Linked DNA regions of Homo sapiens: region 2 is linked to region 1. The links come from fine-mapping of genetic effects on gene expression. A gene starts in region 1. The other region holds a variant in brackets. All regions are shown on one strand. Distances are from middle to middle.

Region 1 (9,233 bases):
GGGCGACAGAGCGAGACTCTGTCTCAAAAAAAAAAAAAAAAAAAAAAAAAGAGCCGGGCACGGTGGCCTCATGCACTTTGGGAGGCTGAGGAGGGTAGATCACCTGAGGTCAGGAGTTCGAGAGCAGCCTGGCAAACATGGTGAAACCCTGTCTCTACTAAAAATACAAAAATTAGCTGGGCGTGTTGGCATATGCCTGTAATCCCAGCTTCTTGGGAAGCTGAGGCAGAAGAATTGCTTGAAACTGGGAAGCGGAGGTTGCGGTTGAGTCGAGATCGCCCCATTGCACTCCAGCCTGGGTGACGAGGAAAACTGTCTTAAAAAAAAAAATAGACATTCCCCAATATGGGTTGCAAAAATTGTGATATGTGTATATTTCTTGCATTTATCTGAGTTATGCTTTTAAAACAAATAAATATAATGACCAGGTATGATTTCAGTTGGAAATAAGATGAAAGGCTTTATAAACTGGACATACTGTGGGAACATGAGGCCCCTCATAAACCTGATTTAGACAAGTCTGATTTCTGGAAAGTCCTCTAAGGTAATGTGCAATGTGGCCTTGGGTGGGTCACCTCACCTCTTTGATGCCTCCGTTTTCTCATCTGAAAAGTGAACACAGGCCGGGCACGGTGGCTTACATCTGTAATCCCAGCTCTTCGGGAAGCTGAGGTGGGCAGATCCCTTCAGGTCAAGAGTTCGAGACTAGCCTGGCCAACATGGTGAAAACCCTTTTCTACAAAAAAAATACAAAAATTAGCTGGGCATGGTGGCACGTGCCTGTAATCCCAGCTACTCGGGAGGCTGAGGCAGGAGGATCACTTGAACCTGGGAGGTGGAGGTTGCAGTGAGCCAAGATGGTGCCACCGCACCCCAGCCTGGGCAATAGAGGGAGACTCTGTCTCAAAAAAACCAAAAAAGTGAATATACCAGTAGGCCCACACCTGGTAGGGCTGTTGAGACAATCCGCTCAAAACACTTTATTGCAATATGCACTAAGTATCTACCATGAGCCTGTGCTATGCTTTTTAGGTGCATTGGTTCAATTAATCCTTGAAGCCCAGGTTCTGAAGCCCGTTTTCCAAAAAAGAAGAGGCTCTGACAGGTGAAGTGATGAGCATCAAGGTTGATTCTGGGCTTGTGTTCTACCTGCCTCCCTACTAAAATGTTAGCCTATTACTCTTGTTGTAGTGGTGGTGGTTGCTCTTATTAAAATGAGCATATGATGATAGCACTGGCCTCGTTAACAAGTTCTGACGATTAAATGAATTGATATTGTAAAGAGTTTAGCATGGTGCCCAGCACACAATAAGCTCTCTGTATTTCTTAAATAAAATTAACAGTACAGCCCCGGAAAGGCAGAGTCCAGTGCCCAAGAAACTTGGTCCTCGGGTTTCTCGGCATCTTCCACCCCAGCTCCTGGCTTCGTCCTGTCCAGGAGGGGTTAAGGAGTTAATGATTTCCAAAGGAGCAGGGTTTTGTGTGTTACATGCACACACACCGGTGGCCTCTGTCCCCCCTCCCTCTGCGAGGCCCGGAGCCTCTTATGCAAGCCGCCGGCGCCCGCCGGTTCCCAGGCCCGGCTGCAGCTGGGGGCGGAGGGGCAGGGCGGGGGCGGCGCGCTGTTTGTCTAGCGCGGCTGTGCCAAAGGCTGCGGGCCCCAGACAGCCAGGCGCCTCCGTACACCTGGGGATGCTCAGGTTAAATAGCTCCGCATTCCTCGGGCCCAGCTGATGGAAACGCTCCCAGGCCGCCGCGGAGCCGGCCTCCAGATGGGCTGGGTCTGGGCCAAAGGGGAACAGAGGGAAACGTGGAATCCAGAGTGTGCCTGAATGGCGGGGGAGGTGGCCCAGGCCCCCGCCGCAGCCCCTTCCTCCCCTGGAAAAAGGCCCTGCATGTCGGAGTACGCGAGGGGGAACCCGCTCAGACCCCGTGGGTGGGCTTGCAGGCGGGGGCCCACACGTGAGAGTGCGTGCGTGCACACGTGTGCCTCCGAGGACACTCCAAGGACTCACAGGCGACAATAATAATTTATAACTATGAAACATTCTGTGCCAAGCACTGTGCTAAACGTTTTACACACTTACTTTATTTCATTTATTCTGTACTACATTCCGTGAGGTTAGTACTGTAATACAGCAGCCGGTGGGGAGGAGGTAGCAAAGAACATAATTCGCCTGCAAGTACTGGGTTCTTCGATAAAATCCATAAACTGTGGAGGGGGTGTACCTGGCTTAATGTTAGTGCTCAAATCATAATCTTTCATTTGATTTTTTGTTCATCCCCTCTCTGAGCTTGTTCCTTCTGCTGTAAAACTGGGATCACAGTCTTGCCTTTAGCCCCACAGGGATCCATGAAATCGTTTTTGTAAAGGGTTCAGTTGAGCAGAGCCAGGCTTCTGGTGCTAAGGGCTATTGATTTTATTCTATTGTTTATTGACAAAATATATTAATAGCCCTTACCTGTCTGGGACAAGTTCTTTGTCATTCCTGGGACTCAGTTTCTCCATATGTAATACAGGGGGGTTTACCTGGCAGCAATCCTTGAGGGTTGGTGCCCCCAGGACCTAACGATAGCCCAGGGAGTTGCCACGTGAACTTTTGAGGAAGGGTTTGCCCAAACACAGCTGTCCCCACCTTCACTCCAGACCCGCAGAGGCCCAGGAATGCCAACCAATCTATAGAACAGTTATACACACAGAAACCCACAGTGTGGTTCTGTGGCCCCCAGACACACAAACCCATCCATCATGCCAGACCCATGCAGAGATGCCTACAATGCATTTAGGCAGAACACACAAGCCCAAACAGCTGGAGGTTCCACACTTATCTGCAGAACACATGTGCTCTCATTTGCCCTTCTGCACACACCCCCAAGCATACTCCTACTTACACCCCCTCCCCCAAGCCTATATGTGAACAGTTGGCCCATCCCCACTGTGGGAGTAGTGGGGGAAGATCAGCTTACTCCTGTTACATACACAGGCGTAGACACTCATACATGCTCCCCTGAGTAGAAATCCACATACATGTCCAGGAAGATTCTTAGACCCTTGCCAATGACATATTTTTCCTGCTCAGGAGCTGGGTAATGAGACTCGTCCACTCCTCAGATCCTACGCAGGAGCCCCGGGGTTGGTGGGGGAGATTTGTTTGAACTGCCGACAGAGCCAGGCCAGAGTGAGGAGGCCGAGTCTGGACCCAGAGCAGGTGTCTCGGCAGCTGTGCCCAGCCTGGCCCTGCCAACTTGCTCACCCACTTGGATGAGCCAGGAGCCCCAGGGCTGCCTGCTGGAACCCAGAGGTAGGCTGTTGGGGGAGGCACCTCCAACTGGGGAATGGGGTGATAGAATCACTGCCTCTCACAAGCTATGGCCCTAAGCAAGTCCCTTTCCACTGGGTCTCACTTTATCCACATCTTGGCAAGGAAGTGGGTGGTCCAGCGGCCAGGTTCTCCAACTTAAATGGCTTGCTCAATACTCCCAATACAGAGGGGGCCCTGGCAGGTTCATCTGCATTTTAACAACCTCCCCAGGTGATCTAGATGGCCCAATGATCACTGTGAGAAACCCCAGAGGTCTGGAGTATTTAGTTTTATAACACTGGGGAGCAGGGAAATGGGCAGGGATGGTGGGGGAAGAATAGACTTTAAAGACACCGGAAACACTCATTCAGGCCGGTAAGAGCAACAATCCAGATGTAGCCCTCCAATTCTCCTCCCAGAACCAGCTGTGAAGAGGGTCAGGGGTCAACCCCCAGCCCAGGCCCCTCCCCTCAACCCAAGAAGTCACTACAACTTTACCACCATCTAAATTATTTGTTTAATAACAAAAAAACAGCCCCACAGAACTATTGTAAAACAATATTTTCAGTCGGTGATCATTGTAATATACAATACAAAGCAATTTCCTCAGAAATCTGAGAAGCACCAAACGTGACCATTTTTTAAAATGTCTGCTTTTCAAAAAATAGAAACACACGAGTGGAATCCCACCCCCTAAAGTCTCTGGTGACTAGTAGGTGTGCAGAGAGGAGCGCCCTCTCCTCGCCAGTGCCTCAGCCTCAGCCCCAGGCTGGATGCAGTTAAGGGCGCAGTGGCCGCCGATCGGTCTTGTTCTCCCTCAGATCCGGCGAGGCGCGTTGGGGGAGACCCACAGAGCACGTAATTCCTCTTGCCCCCTGGATGGCTGGGGTCCGCCGGTCCCTGGGGGAGGCGCTTCAGCGACACAAGATGCGATCGTCCGCAGGAACGCATGCCGCCTGTGAAAACGAGAAGAAATGAGACCGGCGGGTTGGAAGGGACGCCGCTCCGAGCGCAGCGAACGCCCCCTTCCCCAGGAAGCACGACGGGGGAGCGCTTTTTCCAGGCTCCTTAGGCACCCCCGCATAGCCAGGTACCCGCAAGGATGGGACGGAAGTGGTGCAAGCGCCCACGCCCTCTCTGGCCTCCGTTTCCCCGTCGGTATAAGGATGATCTAGTGGTCGGATCTGGATCTCACCTCGGCCGTCAGGGCGCTGATCTCGCCGTTGAGGGTGCTGAGCGGAGCCCGGACCGGCAGCCCTCGGCCCCCGGGGGTTCCAACTTCGGATTCCGAGTTCAGCTCCAACTGAAGGTCCCTGATGTAGTCGATGACGTGCTGGAGAATCTCCACCTTGCTCACCTTGCGGTTCTGGGGCAGGGTGGGCACCAGCTCCTTGAGGCGTGAGTAACAGCCGTTCATGTCGTAGAGCAGCACGTTTACCTGCTGCTCGTCCAGCAGGGCAGGCAGGCGCGCCCCGGCGCCCCCGGCGCAGCGCGAGATGGCCACGCTCTGCTCAGACAGACAGCGCACCACCTCGCCCGCACCGCTCGCTGTCTTGCCGGCCTTCAGCGCGCAGCTGGGGCCCGCGGCGGCGGTGGCGGTGCTGCCACTGGCGACTTTCATGATTCTTGGCGACTGGCTGAAACAGAATGGGCAAAGCGAAAAAAATGAGGTGGAAGCCCGAAGCAGATACGGAAAATGGAACAGTTAAGAACGTGGAATGAGAGTGCGGAGCCACAGCTTGTCTTTTATAAACACGCCACGGCCCCCGGAGGGGCGGGCTCAGAACGTTCAAAAGCAGCCAATGGGCGGCATGGGGGCGTGACCCGCGCTCCTAGGTCCAGCCTCCTGCTCGTCTAGTGCCTGCTCGCAGTGTGGAAAGACGACCCGGGTTTCAGAACAGCAAGGGTGGGTCGGTGGCAGGGCACCGGGCAGGGCAGCGGGTAGAGGCGAGGGCCGCACTGGGCTCCTCTGGAAGGAGGCAAGGAAGCTAAGCAGGCATTGCCTTATAATGAAAAGACCTCAGGAATCAGTTTTTCCCATATTCACTTTCTCACTTCTCCAGCTCCATTTCACAGATGAGAGAAATTGAGGCCCGAACGGAGAAGCGGCTGGCTCTGGATAGCCCAGAGAGCCTGGGTTTCCGGACCCTCTTGGAAGATGCTTCTCGGACCCTGATCTACAAATATCAGGACCGAAATTTAAAGCGGGCGCTCCTTTACATCTGCTCCCCTGGGCTTTCTCAATTCCTAAATAATGTTGCTGTTCGTGTTCCTGAGACCCGGAGGGCCTACCCAGATCCCTCCCGGGTGGGAGCAATTAATTCGGGAAAGTCTAGTAAGTTTGGGGCTGGGTGGCTGGGAAGTGAACTAGATAGAGCGCAGTGGAGTGAGGCTGCATTCGATTCCACCTTGAATTTGCAGCTCCTTGCAAAAATTTCCTGAACCTGCAACAGTTCGTGATTTTTTAATGTTTTTTCCCATTTTTGGCTGCTTTTTAAATTTTCTTCTCAAAGACCTCAGAGCAGGGTCTCCCTCCCACGGCGCGGCAGCTGCGGAGCTACAGTCTCCCCCCTCCCTTCCCGGGCCGGTCTGTGTCAGCGTCTGAACCAGCGGCTCAGACCGTTAGACGCCAGGCCTGTGACGTCACCCATTCATAAAACCCGGACGGACTGTCAGGCTGGCGCCGCGCGGGCGGTCGCCATGGAGACGACAAACTGGTCTAGCTAGTTCCCGTGCTCCCCCCAGCCCGTCACCTGCAGACCCCGGGCGGGAGGCCTGGGAATGCGTTTCTTGCGGGCGCGGTCGCTGAGCAAGGGTCACCTTACCTCCCCGCCCCACACCTGCGAGTCTCCCAACCCAGACCCACAGCTTGGGCCGCTTGGGGTTTCTTCACCGCTCCCCCCACCTCTCCGCCCCAGCTACCCCTTCCAGCGTGGGGAAAAAGGCCTGAGTTCTCTTTCCAGCTCTGCAGCTGAGTGAATTCAGGCGGGTCGCATGCCCTCTCTGAGCCCTAATATTTAATATCTGCTTGGTGTTTAAATAATAATCACAAACGTGACCATTATTAATTTCTTACTTTGTACAGCGGGCACTGTATGAAGAGTTTGTCTTGATCATCTTTTTTCATTTATTTCTTATTTTAAAAAATGAAGGGCTGCGCGGTGGCTCACGCCTGTAATCCCAACAATTTGGAAGGCCGAGGCGGGTGGATTGCCTGAGGTCAGGAGTTCGAGACCAGCCTGACCAATATGGTGAAACCCCATCTCTACTAAAAATACAAAAATTAGCCGGGCATGGTAGCGTTCGCCTGTAATCCCAGCTACTCGGGAGGCTGAGACAGGAGAATTGCTTGAACCTGGGAGGCGGAGGTTGCAGTGAGCCGAGATCGCACCACTGCACTCAAGCCTGGCGACAGAGTGAGACTCGTCTCAAAAAAAAAAAAAAAAAAAAGGATACAGGGGGCCGGGCGCAGTGGCTCACGCCTGTAATCCCAGCACTTTGGGAGGCCGTGGTGGGCAGATCACGAGGTCAGGAGTTCGAGACCAGCCTGACCAACATGGTGAAATCCCGTCTCTACTAAAAATGAAAAATTAGCCAGGTGTGGTGGCGCGCACCTGTAATACCCCAGCTACTCAGGAGGCTGAGGCAGGAGACTCGCTGGAACCCAGGAGGCGGAGGTTGTAGTGAGCCGAGATTATGCCACTGCACTCCAGCCTGGGCGACAGAGTGGGACTCTGTTTCAAAATAAAATAATAATGATACAGGGTCTTACTCTGTCACCCGGCTTGATCAACTTCTGTAGTCTTTTTCACAACTCTAAAGAAAGGAGCTCTTTGGTTTCTTTATACAAAGGAAACTGAGGCTCCACACGACGCCTAAGTCATAACCATAGTTGTGTTATTATAAGGAGGGTACAGTGTTGTAATGCAACCGCTTCCTGCTGAGAGCAGGCAGTCTGACTGCAGAGTCCTGGACATGCCACAGGTGGGGAAACCGAAGCTCAGATTAGTCACCCAAAGCCACACAACATTAGCAGGGGTAAAAATCTGTGCTCACCAGTGGAGGGTGATATTATGGTCCCTCCCTGCTCCGCTCCACCGCACTACCCCGCAGCAATTAATTCACTGAGTTATCAGCAGGTTCCGTTTTCCCACAGAAGTTCGGGGGATGAGGGAAAAGTAAAGGAGCCTTCTGCCTCCACATCAGGAAACCAGGAAAACCAAACCAATCAGTGAGACCAGCTTCAAAAGAGAGAGACATCATCAATTAATTAGCCAGACTCCTCATCCCCTTACCACACACACCAAAACTCTCTAAACTCCCTACGCCTTGTTTAGCAATCCTAAATTAATGATGGGAGGGAATAGTTTGCTGCTCAAAAGAATTGCCAAATAATTGGAAGAACAACAGTCAACCAGAGGAAATTAGAGTATTAATTCATCACCAAGTGTTTATTTTTGTTTATTTTTGAGGCAGAGTCTCGCTCTGTTGCCCAGACTGGAGTGCAGTGGCGCGATCTCAGCTCACTGCAACCACCACCTCCTGAGTTCAAGTCATTCTCCTGCCTCAGGCTGGGATTACAGGCACCCACCACCACGCCCATCTAATTTTTGTATTTTTAGTGGAGACGGGGTTTTGCCATGTTGCCTAGGGTGGTCTCAAACTCCTGACCTCAGGTGATCCGCCCGCCTTGGCCTCCCAAAGTGCTGGGATTACAGGCATGAGCCACCGTGCCTGGCCATCACCAACTATTTATTTATTTTTTTTTGAGATAGAGTCTCAGACTGTCACCCAGGCTGGAGTGCAATAGCACAGTCTTGGTTCACTGCAACCTCCGCCTCCTGGGTTCAAGCGATTCTTCTGCCTCAGCCTCCCAAGTAGCTGGGATTACAGGTGCCCGCCACCACACCAGGCTAAATTTTTTGTCTTTTTAGTAGAGACGGGGTTTCACTATGTTGGCCAGGCTGGTCTCAAACTCCTGACCTTGTGATCTCTCCACCTCAGACTCCCAAAGTACTGGGATTACAGGCGTGAGCCACAGTGCCTGGCCTTCAACTGTGAATTAATTGATCCAGCAATTCTGTTTACTGCAATGAATTCCAGAGAAACCAGCTTGGCCAACATAGCAAAACCCAGTCTCTACTAAAAATACAAAAATTAGCCAGGTGTGGTGGTGGGCGCCTGTAGTCCCAAGTACCTGGGAGGCTGAGGCAGGAGAATCATTTGAACCCAGGAGGTGGAGGTTGCAGAGAGCCGAGACCAAGCCACTGCACTCCAGCCTGGGCGACAGAGTGAGATTCTGATTCAAAAAAATAAAAATAAGAGAGAAAATTATGCTGTAGAAATTAATTCAGGGCCAGGCGCAGTGGCTCACGCCTGTAATCCCAGCAGTTTGTAAGGCCAAGCCAGGTGGATAACCTGAGGTCAGGAGTTCGAGATCAATCTGGCCAACATGGTGAAACCTCATCTCTACTAAAAATAGAAAAATTAGCAGGGCGTGGTGGTGCACACCTGTAATCCCAGCTACTTGGGAGGCTAAGGCAAGAGAATTTCATGAACCCAAGAAGTGGAGATTGCAGTGAGCCAAGATGCCACCACGGCATTCCAGCCTGGGTGACAAAGCAAGACCCTGTCTCAAAATATAAATACATAAAATAAATAAAATGACATAGTATTTGTATAAAACCTATGCATATCCTTCTATCCACTTTTTTTTTTTTTTGAGACGGAATCTCGCTCTGTCACCCAGGCTAGAGTGCAATGGCACGATCTCCGCTCACTGCAACCTCTACCTCCCAGATTCAAGCAATTCTCCTGCCTCAGCCTCGCGAGTAGCTGGGATTACAGGTGCCCACCACCACACCTGGCTAATTTTTGTATTTTTAGTAGAGATGGGATTTCGCCACATTAGCCAGGCTGGTCTCGAACTCC
Region 2 (9,233 bases), 37 kb after region 1:
CCCTGCTGCACAAATAAAAGAGAAAAGGGAAAAAGAGCGGAGACAGGCAGCCCCGCTTTACAGGTAGGGAAAGTGAGGCACAGAGAAGTAAAACGACCTACCCAAGGAAACCCATCTAGTAAAGGCAGGGACCGGGATCGCAGGCTCTTGGAGCTCACCAGTCCCCGCCGGGCGGTGCTTGGCCCCTCCTTCCCCTCCGGCGGGCGTGGCCCGGCCGGGCCCGCCCCCTCCCCTGCGCGCGTTCCTGGCAGCCCGGCCGGCGTTTCCTGCCTGCGTCGCTGAGCTGGCGGGCGGGCAGCCCATCTGGCGGCCCCCGCGGGGCGGCGCGGGGAGGCGGCCCAGACTTGCTGGAGCCAGGCGCCGGCCCGGGGGCCCCCCTGCCCGCCTGGAGAACCCAGGTGTGGCCGCGGCGGGGGTGGGGGGTGGTGCTTTCCTTCCCGCTCGCTCGGCCCTTCCTGACGCACCAGGGCAGGATGCAGCCTCCTCCCGTCCTCTCCTCGGCCTCCGCCTCCCGCGCCCTGGCCCGGAATGCTGGAGGGAATCCAAACGCAGGGCGGGGAGGCAGGGGCAGGCCCCTGAGGCCCCGCCCCTGATAGCCATTTGATACCACCGCTAGTCTTGCCCGTGTTTGGGGTGACTCAGCTTCCCTGCTTGTGCAAGAACAGCTGAACTCTGACCTCCTGAATGGCCGACTCTTGCCTTGCTCCTCAGGGACCCCAGACACGATCGTAGGAACCGGAGGTACTACTGCCCTAAGCCATAGCGCTTGACATTATCCATTTATTCAGCAGTTTCAAGTCGCGGCAAGCGGCGTTTGACCACTTCTGTTCCCTGCCCAGTGCTTAACTGGTACCTGGTGCCGGCCTGATGGAGGCTCTGAAGGCTTTCCCTCAGAAAGCTGGACCCGCCCTGGGAAGCAGGTCCTAACCCCCCTTCACAGTCGAGCACAAGACCGCTTCATTCACACTGCAGGAGCCAGCCCTGCTGTCAGACTGACGGTGCCAAACCCCCTTCTCCAATGCTGCCCCCAAAAGGAACCAGGGATCCATTATCCTGATCATGTCAAACGGCACCACGGTGAATACGAGTCTTGGAAGCCAGACACTCTGGGTTCACATGCCCCCTGGGCCCGCCCTTACGGTCTCTGCCTCAGTTTCCCCATCGTAAGAATGATGTAGGTACCTCAAAGTGTTGTTACAACGATTAAGTAAATCTTAAGATACATTTGAAACTTGAACACGGGTTTCAATTGTGCAGGTGCACTTAAACGTGGACTTTTTTTCTACCTCTGCCACCCCTGAGACACCAAGACCAACCCCCTCCTCTTCCTCAACACAGAGACCAGGATGAAGATCTTTATTTATGATGATCCACTTTCACTGAATAATTTTTTTTTTTTTGAGACGGAGTCTCACTCTGTCCCCCAGGCTGGAGTGCGGTGGTGCAATCTTGGCTCACTGCAACCTCCGCCTCTTGGGTTCAAGTGATTCTCCCACCTCAGCCTCCTGAGTAGCTGGGACTACAGTCGCCTGCCACCATGCCAGGCTAATTTTTGTATTTTTAGTAGAGTCGGGGTTTCACCATATTGGCCAGGCTGGTCTCGAACTCCTGACTTTGTGATCCGCCTGCCTCTCTCGGCTTACTGCAAGCTCTGCCTCCCGGGTTCAGGCCATTCTCCTGCCTCAGCCTCCCGAGTAGCTGAGACTACAGGCGCCTGCCATCATGCCCGGCTAATTTTTTGTATTTTTAGTAGAAACGGGGGTTTCACCATGTTAGCCAGGATGGTCTCGATCTCCTGACCTCCTGATCTGCCCATCTTGGCCTCCCAAAATGCTGGGATTACAGGCATGAGCCACCATGCCTGGCTCTTAGGATTTTCTTAATTACATTTTCTCTAGCTTACTCTATGGTAGACAGTGTAGTACGTATAACATACAAGATGTTTTGACTGTTTATGTTATCAGGTAAGGCTTCTGGTCAACAGCAGACTATTAGTTGTTTTGCGGGACTGAAAAGTTATACAGATTTTCGACCATGATGGGTTGGTGCCCCTAATCCCTGTGTTGTTCAAGGGTCAGTTGCACTAGCATAATGCTAGTCACGTGAAATACAGTCAGTGCACACTGGGGTCTCAGCAGGGCTGGTTTTCCCCTTGGAACCCTCTCTCTTGTCGCAGTCATGGGAGACTGAGGCACAGAAACAGAATCTAATAAAGCAGGGTAGAACTTGGGTTCTAGAGCAGTTTCCTAATAATCCACCCCAAACCAGGTGAGGCTGGCATCTAGCCCACTCGGGGCCCTGCCCAACCACCCACACCCCCTCCCCAGCATGCAGGCCCAATCCTTGCCCGGCCTGGTGCCATTTTTCCATGGGACTCTGATGGTGGCGGTTCACATCTGGAGTCTAGACTCGCAGGCTCTGCGGGCCAGGCCTACCGCCTGGGCTGGGCCACCACTGCCCGCTGTTTGCTCAGCTGAAGCTGGTTAATTGGAATTACAGTGGCCTCTGCGGTGCCGGCTGGCCGGGCGGGCCCTAGTCCGCTGCTCCGGAGGTCTGTGGAACATCTGGCTGGACCAGGACAGTCATTAGGTGGCAGGCGCTCGGCGCCACTGCCACCTCAGCCTCTGCCGGGGGCTGGTGGTGACTCAATAAGGCCTTTGTGCGCCCTGGGCCGCAGAGCCAACCATGCTATGTGCCTGGGCCGCCTGCCCCATCTGCCTCAGAGGGGCCTTGTTCCAGGACCACATGGCCTCAGAGTTGGCTGGAGTGGGTAGAGATTCCAGAAGCCCCTGAAAGGGAACCCCCCTCCCTGAAAGGAAGAAGCCTTTTGAAATTTTCTACCCCTTTTCCTTCCTATAGAACCCTGGAGCCAGTAAAATTGGGTGGCTGGGGCTCAGGGATGCCCAGCACACCAGCCAGTGACTTGGTCCCAGGGGTCTGGGGAGGAGCTGCGGTCCTTAGGAACCTGGAATTGTTTGGCTTGGCTAAGGTCAAATCGATGTCCATGGGCAAGCTGCCTCAATTCCCTCATCTGCACAGCGGAGCGAATAATAGCACATACAGCCCAAGACTCAGAAGGAAGTGAAATCCTATATCAAGGTGCTTAGTGCATGTCAATACCTAGTGAGGGTATTACAGTCATACTCCTGAGTCTCTGGTCATGATTGTCCTTTGGCCACTTCCAAACTGGAAGCCACTGTTATTTTCAGCCTTTGAACCTGAAGCTTGGGCAAGGGAGAGCCCCGGGTCTGTCAGTATGGTGGCCACCCGCTCCTGTCTGTTTCCCCACTCAGTGACCTCATACCAGGTGGGTGGATGAGGGTTGTGGCCACCGTTTGCCTGGTTTGGGGTGGTGCCCGGTCGGTCTCCTGCTGGCCGGGGCTGCTGTCTTCAGCAAACTTTAGGGAAACCCGGGCGCTGAGATTTCAGCTCTTAGGCCCCAGAAGGCCTCTAAGAATCACTAGCTCAGTCCTTCCCCACCCCAGCCTCTAGAGGTCCTGGCCCTTGTGCCATGACTGGCCCCACAGTAGTCATTTTGGGAAGAAACCCAGGAATGGGCAGAATGGGAGACAAAGCCTTGATCTTCAGGGCAACCTAGAGTCTGAGCCCTCATCAGCCGAAGCCATATGGGCACAGGGACCAGGGAGGCTGGCAGGTTCTACAGTTACTGCTTCCCTTGTGAGTCAGGTCAGCCCTGGGTACTCCCCACCACTCTCACCATGGTGAGTGGGAGACTCTCATCTGCCAACACCCTTGCTGCCCCCAAGTATTTCGAGGAAGGTGGTGAGAAAAGTGCTAGCTGGTGAGAGAGGGCTCGTGGGCCCCCTCTACTGGCTAAAAGGTGTTTTACGGGTGCAGGGCTGGCCAGGCACTGGGGTGGGCACCCTTAAGGGGCTTGCAGAAAAGATTTTGGGTGGGCAGGTGAGACCTAGAAAACCCAGGGCAAGACACTGGGTGCTTAAACAGAGAATCTTCCAGGAGCACAGTGGCCCGCCCTGGCCATGGGATGAGTTTTTAATGTGAGGCAAAATCAGTCCACAATACAAAATCTAAAAATCACACCCACTTTTCCCACCTGGCTCCCGGGGAGGGGGGAAGCTGGGGGTTTCTTTTGCCTGCAGGGTGTGGGGAGGAGCAGAGGAGGGCCAAGAAAGGGAGAAGGAAACAGAGGCCACAGAGGCCTGGCTGGAGGTATCCTGCTGCCCCCTGCCCTGTCCTGGAGCTGCCCTTGGCCTCCTGTGCCCTCTACCGGTGCACGCCTGTGTGGGCCCAGCCCCCATCTGTCTGGTCTGGCCCTGAGAGGCTCGGGCACCAGCTGCATCATTTCTCTTTCTTCTCCAGCCCCTTCGATGCTGATGCCTCTGTTCCCTCTTTGGATTCTGTCACTGCCGCTGGATCCTTAGGATTTGACTCCTCATAACTGACCAAAAAAAAAAAA[A/C]CAACAATAAAAATTCATTTAGAGGAGAGGGTGAGCAGAACCTTGGTTGTCCCCTTCCCCCACCCCCATCCTAGGAAAGCGCCTGGTCACATGCAGAGCGTCAGCCCTGTGTCCACTGCCCAGCACCTAACAGCGCCTGGCCCCAGCCCTACCACATGCCCTCCTCAGGCAGGCTGCTCTGCTTTCTCTGAGCCTGGGGGTACCAGGAGGCAGCAAGGGCAGCAGCCAATGGAAGAGAGGTTGGGCCTGGGCTTGTGTGGGCTGATTTCAAGCTTCCTGAACCTTCTGCTGTAGCGTGGAAAAAGGGGTGGCCATGACAAGGCTACAAGAGATGGAGATAGGCTGCCTCCCAGGGCACACAGCATGAATCAAACAGCTCAGCCCCAGAGGTGAGGGCACTGCTGTACTGGCAAGCGGCAAGGTGCTGCTCTGAAGACAGACACCCTGGCTTAGCTTCTTCTATGGGCTTCATTTTTCAAGCAACTGAGTTCATGCCAAAGATAATACAAATCTTTCCTCACCAGATAAACCCCGTGAGGCAGGAATGTGCCCACTTACAGATGAAGAAAGTAACTTGCCTAAGGTTATACATATACCTTGAATGGTAACAGTATCTACTACTGCATGACAAGGGCCATTTCCATCCACTATGATGTGGGCCCCGCATTACTGGTGAGGGCAGGAAGCTTCGGGGTTGTCCTGCTTCCCAGCCCTATGGCTCGGTGCAACCACTGCCTGGTGGTTGTGGAGGAGCTGCTCTTGCGGCCTACTCCTGGCAATGGTCCCTGCCCTATGCACTGGAGCTGCAGTGTCTGCCCTACCTTGGGCCCCGGGGCAGTAGGGGGAAGCGGGCAGGTGGGCACCCGCTGGGCATTACATGGCGCTGGGATTCTGCGGGCGCCGGCGGCGAGGGCCAGCTAGCTTCTGCTGCATGGAGTCGGCCAGGCTGGCTGGGGAGCCCGAGACTGTGGGGAAGTGGGTGAGCCTCGGGGTATGAGGCAGGATTTCCGCCGAGGACTCGTAGCTGTGTGAGAGAGAGAGAAGAGACAGAAAAAAAGAGATGGATAGGGAAAGACTAAGGGAGGACAGAGACTTCCTTTCCAAGGAGCAGAGAGCAGAACTGTCTTGTTTTTACCTATTTTTGCACTTCCAGATTTTATGGAAAGAAGCTGATATTATTTGGAGAATGAAAAAAGAAAGATGCACCTAGACAAAGGCACATCAGGCCACTGTGCAGAAGAACAAGCATGCTCTAGAAGTGTATGTGCTGCTGTGGAAACACCTCTAAGAAATACCGTAGAAACCCAATGTGCAGAATGCTCCAAGAATGCCACCGTCTGTGCAAGAAAAAGTATACACACATCAGTGCACAGGTGTCTGAATGTCTGTGTAACACTGCTGGCCTCTGTGGGGTAGCTGGAGCATGAGGGTGCTCTCTCTGTTACAGCTTTGGAATTTTTAACTATGTGAATGTGGTACCAATATAAAAATAAGTAAATCAATAAAAAAAGGAGGAGAATAGAAGGGAAAAGTAAAAAGGTGGAGAATTGGGAGAGAAATGGGGAGAAAGGAGGGAGAGAGAGAGAGAGAGAGATCACTTGCTTTTTACCCCAATCTAAGAATGTCCAGGGTGGGAGTGGAGGGCAAACAGTGGGGGCAGGGTACCTGTATGGCAGAGCATTTAGCACCAAGCAGGTAAAGGCCAGGGGCACCCTCTGCCTTGTGTATTCAGAGCTTTGCCTGATGAGGGCACAATAGCATTGGGTGGTTACCCCAAGGGGAGGGGCAGGGAAACCTGGGCTGGATGGGAAGCAGAGGGAGGGTGAAGGATGGGTGCTAAGCTCAGGGATCGGGTGCCATGCCTGCTCCCAAAGCTCCCTGAGACCTGTCCCCAAGTTCACCCCTAGCCCCCACTTGCCTCAGACCACAGAGCTTTGCTGGGCGAGGCAATGTGGGCAGGCAGGCGGGGGGCTGGGGATTCTAGACAGGACAGGGAGGGCAGAGGCAGGTCCGGGGGAGGGGTGAGTCACAGGCTCCCCTGCGGGGAGCCAGGTGCACAGGAGGCCCTGGCAAGCGCTCTAGGGACAGCTTGGAGGCCAGGCAGGTGGAACTGGGCGGAAGGCACCCGAGTAGGCAGCTTTAATCGCAACTGACAGCTATTTCTAGGTCCCTGGCAGGCAGGGTCGGCAGTGCTGGGGGCAGACACCTGTTGGAGTCACGCAGGCCTTGCGGTATGGGTGGGGCTGTGTGCAGGGTGTGGTAGGTGTGGATATGGCCCTGGGGAAGGGGTATCTGTGTGAGATACAGATATAGAGAAAGCAGTGAGCTGTGGGTTAAAGCCACAGAGGTGAATGAACAGGGACTGACACCTGCCTTCTACTCGGGGCACTTTCTACCACACTAGGGCATCCCACACGCCCCCTGTTCTATTACTCACATGTGAAAACTGAGGCCATGGGAGGGGAAGACATGCCTGAAGTCACCTGGGGGCAGAGTCACCTAGGACTTCTGACAGTAGGCAGAGAAAAATCCACAACAGCTATTCTTAAGATCCAGCTAACATTTGGATGGGGGATGCCTAGAGGGCTCTGATGCCTTGCGCTCCCCTGGCTCCTGGCCCAGGGTAAGGTTCCCACTGGTGTCCACAGGCCAGGTACCCATGTACTGCTGAAAAAGGCAAGGGGTGGGGCTGGTGGCAGGAACAATGTTCCCCTGGAGAGGTGTAAAGATACCCCCAGCAGGTTCCACTGACTGCCAGCAGGCACACTGGTGCCCATGAGGACATCTGCCCCCCACTCTGCCTTACCTGAACATCTCTGTCACTTCTCCCTTGGCCAGCGCCACCAGGACAGGAAAACCGATGCAGGCGGGGACCAGGTATAGGAGGGCAGGCTATGAGAGGACACAGGCTGGTGAAGCCATGCTGGGCACGGCACTGCCTCAGGGCCGTGCCCAGCACCCCAAACCCCTTCTGGGCTGGACTGAAGGACAGTGACTGGTCCAGGACCATAGCAAGTCAGTGGCTGGGCCTGAACCCAGGGCTCCTAACTCCCAGACAAGGGTTGCTCCTCCCGAGAGGGAATGCAAGAAAACTAAGAAACTCAAGTAGGCAGGGCTTCAAGGGTTCCCAGGGGTTTGGCTGGCAGCATCTGAATCACCTAGGTCACCAGGTTCAAAAAGCAACTTCCTGGTTTGGTCCTACTCCCAGAGACTCTGCTTCCTGAGGTCTGGGGCTCACACCTGCATTTTAGCAAATGCTCCAGGAGATGCTATTATAGTGATGATGACACCACAGCTGCTATGTAATAACTACTTGTTGCAGCCTGTATTAAGGTGACCTAGCTGGTCACTGGCTCCCCCAGGATTCACACCCAAGCAATTTGGCATGTCTGTGCTGAGACTCCTGGTAAAGCTGGGTTTGGAGAAAAGGACGGTTATACTAAGACCCTGTTCATGAACATCTACTGTGCAGGCACTGAGCTTAGCCTTCCCAGGAAGTCAGCCCACTGCCACATCCCATGATGGTTATCCTTTTGCAGAGGAGGAAGACCAATGCTTCACAAGGAGAGGGAAAATAGCCCAGGACTCAGAGACCCAAATCTTTTTTTTTTTTTTTTTTTGAGACAGAGTCTCTGACTCTTGTTGCCCAGGCTGGAGTGCAATGGTGCAATCTTGGCTCACTGCAACCTCCGCCTCCAGGGTTCAAGCGATTCTCCTGCCTCAGCCTCCTGAGTAGCTGGGACTACAGGTGCCTGCCACCACGCCTGGCTAATTTTTGTATTTTTACTAGAGATGGGGTTTCACCACGTTCGCCATGGTGGTCTCGAACTCCTGACCTCAGGTGATCCACCTGCCTCGGCCTCCCAAATTGCTGGGATTATAGGCCTGAGGCACCACGCCCAGCCCAAAGAGTTTCTTTCTTTTTTTTTTTTTTTTGAGATGGAGTCTGGCTCTGTCACCCAGGCTGGAGTGCAGTGGTGTGATCTTGGCTCACTGCAAGCTCTGCCTCCCAGGTTCACACCATTCTTCTGCCTTAGCCTCCGGAGTAGCTGGGACTACAGGTGCCTGCCACCATGCCCGGCTAATTTTTTTGTATTTTTAGTAGAGACAGGGTTTCACCGTGTTGGCCAGGATGGTCTCGATCTCTTGACCTTGTGATCTGCCTGCCTTGGCCTCCCAAAGTGCTGGGATTACAAGCGTGAGACACCGCGCCTGGCCGAGTTTCTTTTCTTTTCTTTTTTTTTTTTTTTGTGATTTTGAGATAGAGTCTTGCTCTGTCTCCCAGACTGGAGTGCAATGGTGCGATCTTGGCTCATTGCAACCTCCGCCTCCTGAGTAACTGGGATTACAGGCATGCGCCACCATGCCCGGCTAATATTTGTATTTTTCAGTAGAGATGCGGTTTCACCATGTTGGCCAGGCTGGTGCACTTGAGTTCTTTCACATGGAGTCAGGTCCCTTGCTACGTGCTCTGTAAGTCCCTCTAATTTCCCTCACAGCATTCCTCAGCAATTTTTTTTTTTTTGAGACAGGGTCTCACTTTGTCTCCCAGACGGAAGTGCAGTGATATGAACATGGCTCACTGTAGCCTTGACCTCCTGGGCTCAAGTGATCCTCTCGCCTCAGTCCTACAAGTTGCTGGGCCTACAGGTGTGCGCCTCCATGCCTGGCTAATTTTTGTATTTTTTGTAGAGACTGGTTGTCACCATTTTCCCCAGGCTGGTCTTGAACTCCTGAGCTCAAGTGATCCACCTGCTTTTGCCTCCCAACGTGCTGGGATTATGGGTGTGAGCCA

What was found.
Region 2: its variant is fine-mapped to the expression of ID1 in whole blood (TOPMed, PIP above 0.99).

What each region holds. Positions count from the first base shown.
Region 1 is chr20:31,601,078-31,610,310 of GRCh38, reverse strand. It overlaps ID1 (inhibitor of DNA binding 1), which reads right to left and starts at 5,022. Exons shown (of 2, transcript NM_002165.4): 1 at 4,498-5,022; 2 at 3,801-4,258. The coding sequence starts at 4,923. The coding sequence ends at 4,217. It overlaps MIR3193 (microRNA 3193), which reads right to left and starts at 3,125; the gene lies at 3,071-3,125. LOC105372588 (a long non-coding RNA gene) reads left to right here and starts at 5,116. Exons shown (of 2, transcript XR_936669.2): 1 at 5,116-5,208; 2 at 5,366-5,620. RefSeq lists a cis regulatory region at 1,334-1,909, silencers at 2,971-3,265, 7,151-7,445 and enhancers at 3,290-3,868, 3,915-4,584, 4,585-5,255, 5,645-5,824, 5,560-6,398 and 1 more.
Region 2 is chr20:31,564,307-31,573,539 of GRCh38, reverse strand. It overlaps HM13 (histocompatibility minor 13), which reads right to left. Exons shown (of 13, transcript NM_178581.3): 11 at 7,245-7,330; 12 at 5,316-5,462; 13 at 3,997-4,420. The coding sequence ends at 4,321. It overlaps HM13-AS1 (HM13 antisense RNA 1), which reads left to right and starts at 277. Exons shown (of 3, transcript NR_046853.2): 1 at 277-398; 2 at 617-741; 3 at 5,592-5,953. LOC107985416 (a long non-coding RNA gene) reads right to left here and starts at 530. Exons shown (of 3, transcript XR_005647051.2): 1 at 102-530. RefSeq lists silencers at 1-577, 3,640-3,934 and enhancers at 379-920, 6,588-6,727, 6,001-6,876, 6,877-7,752. The variant A/C (reference allele first, on the strand shown) is at 4,439.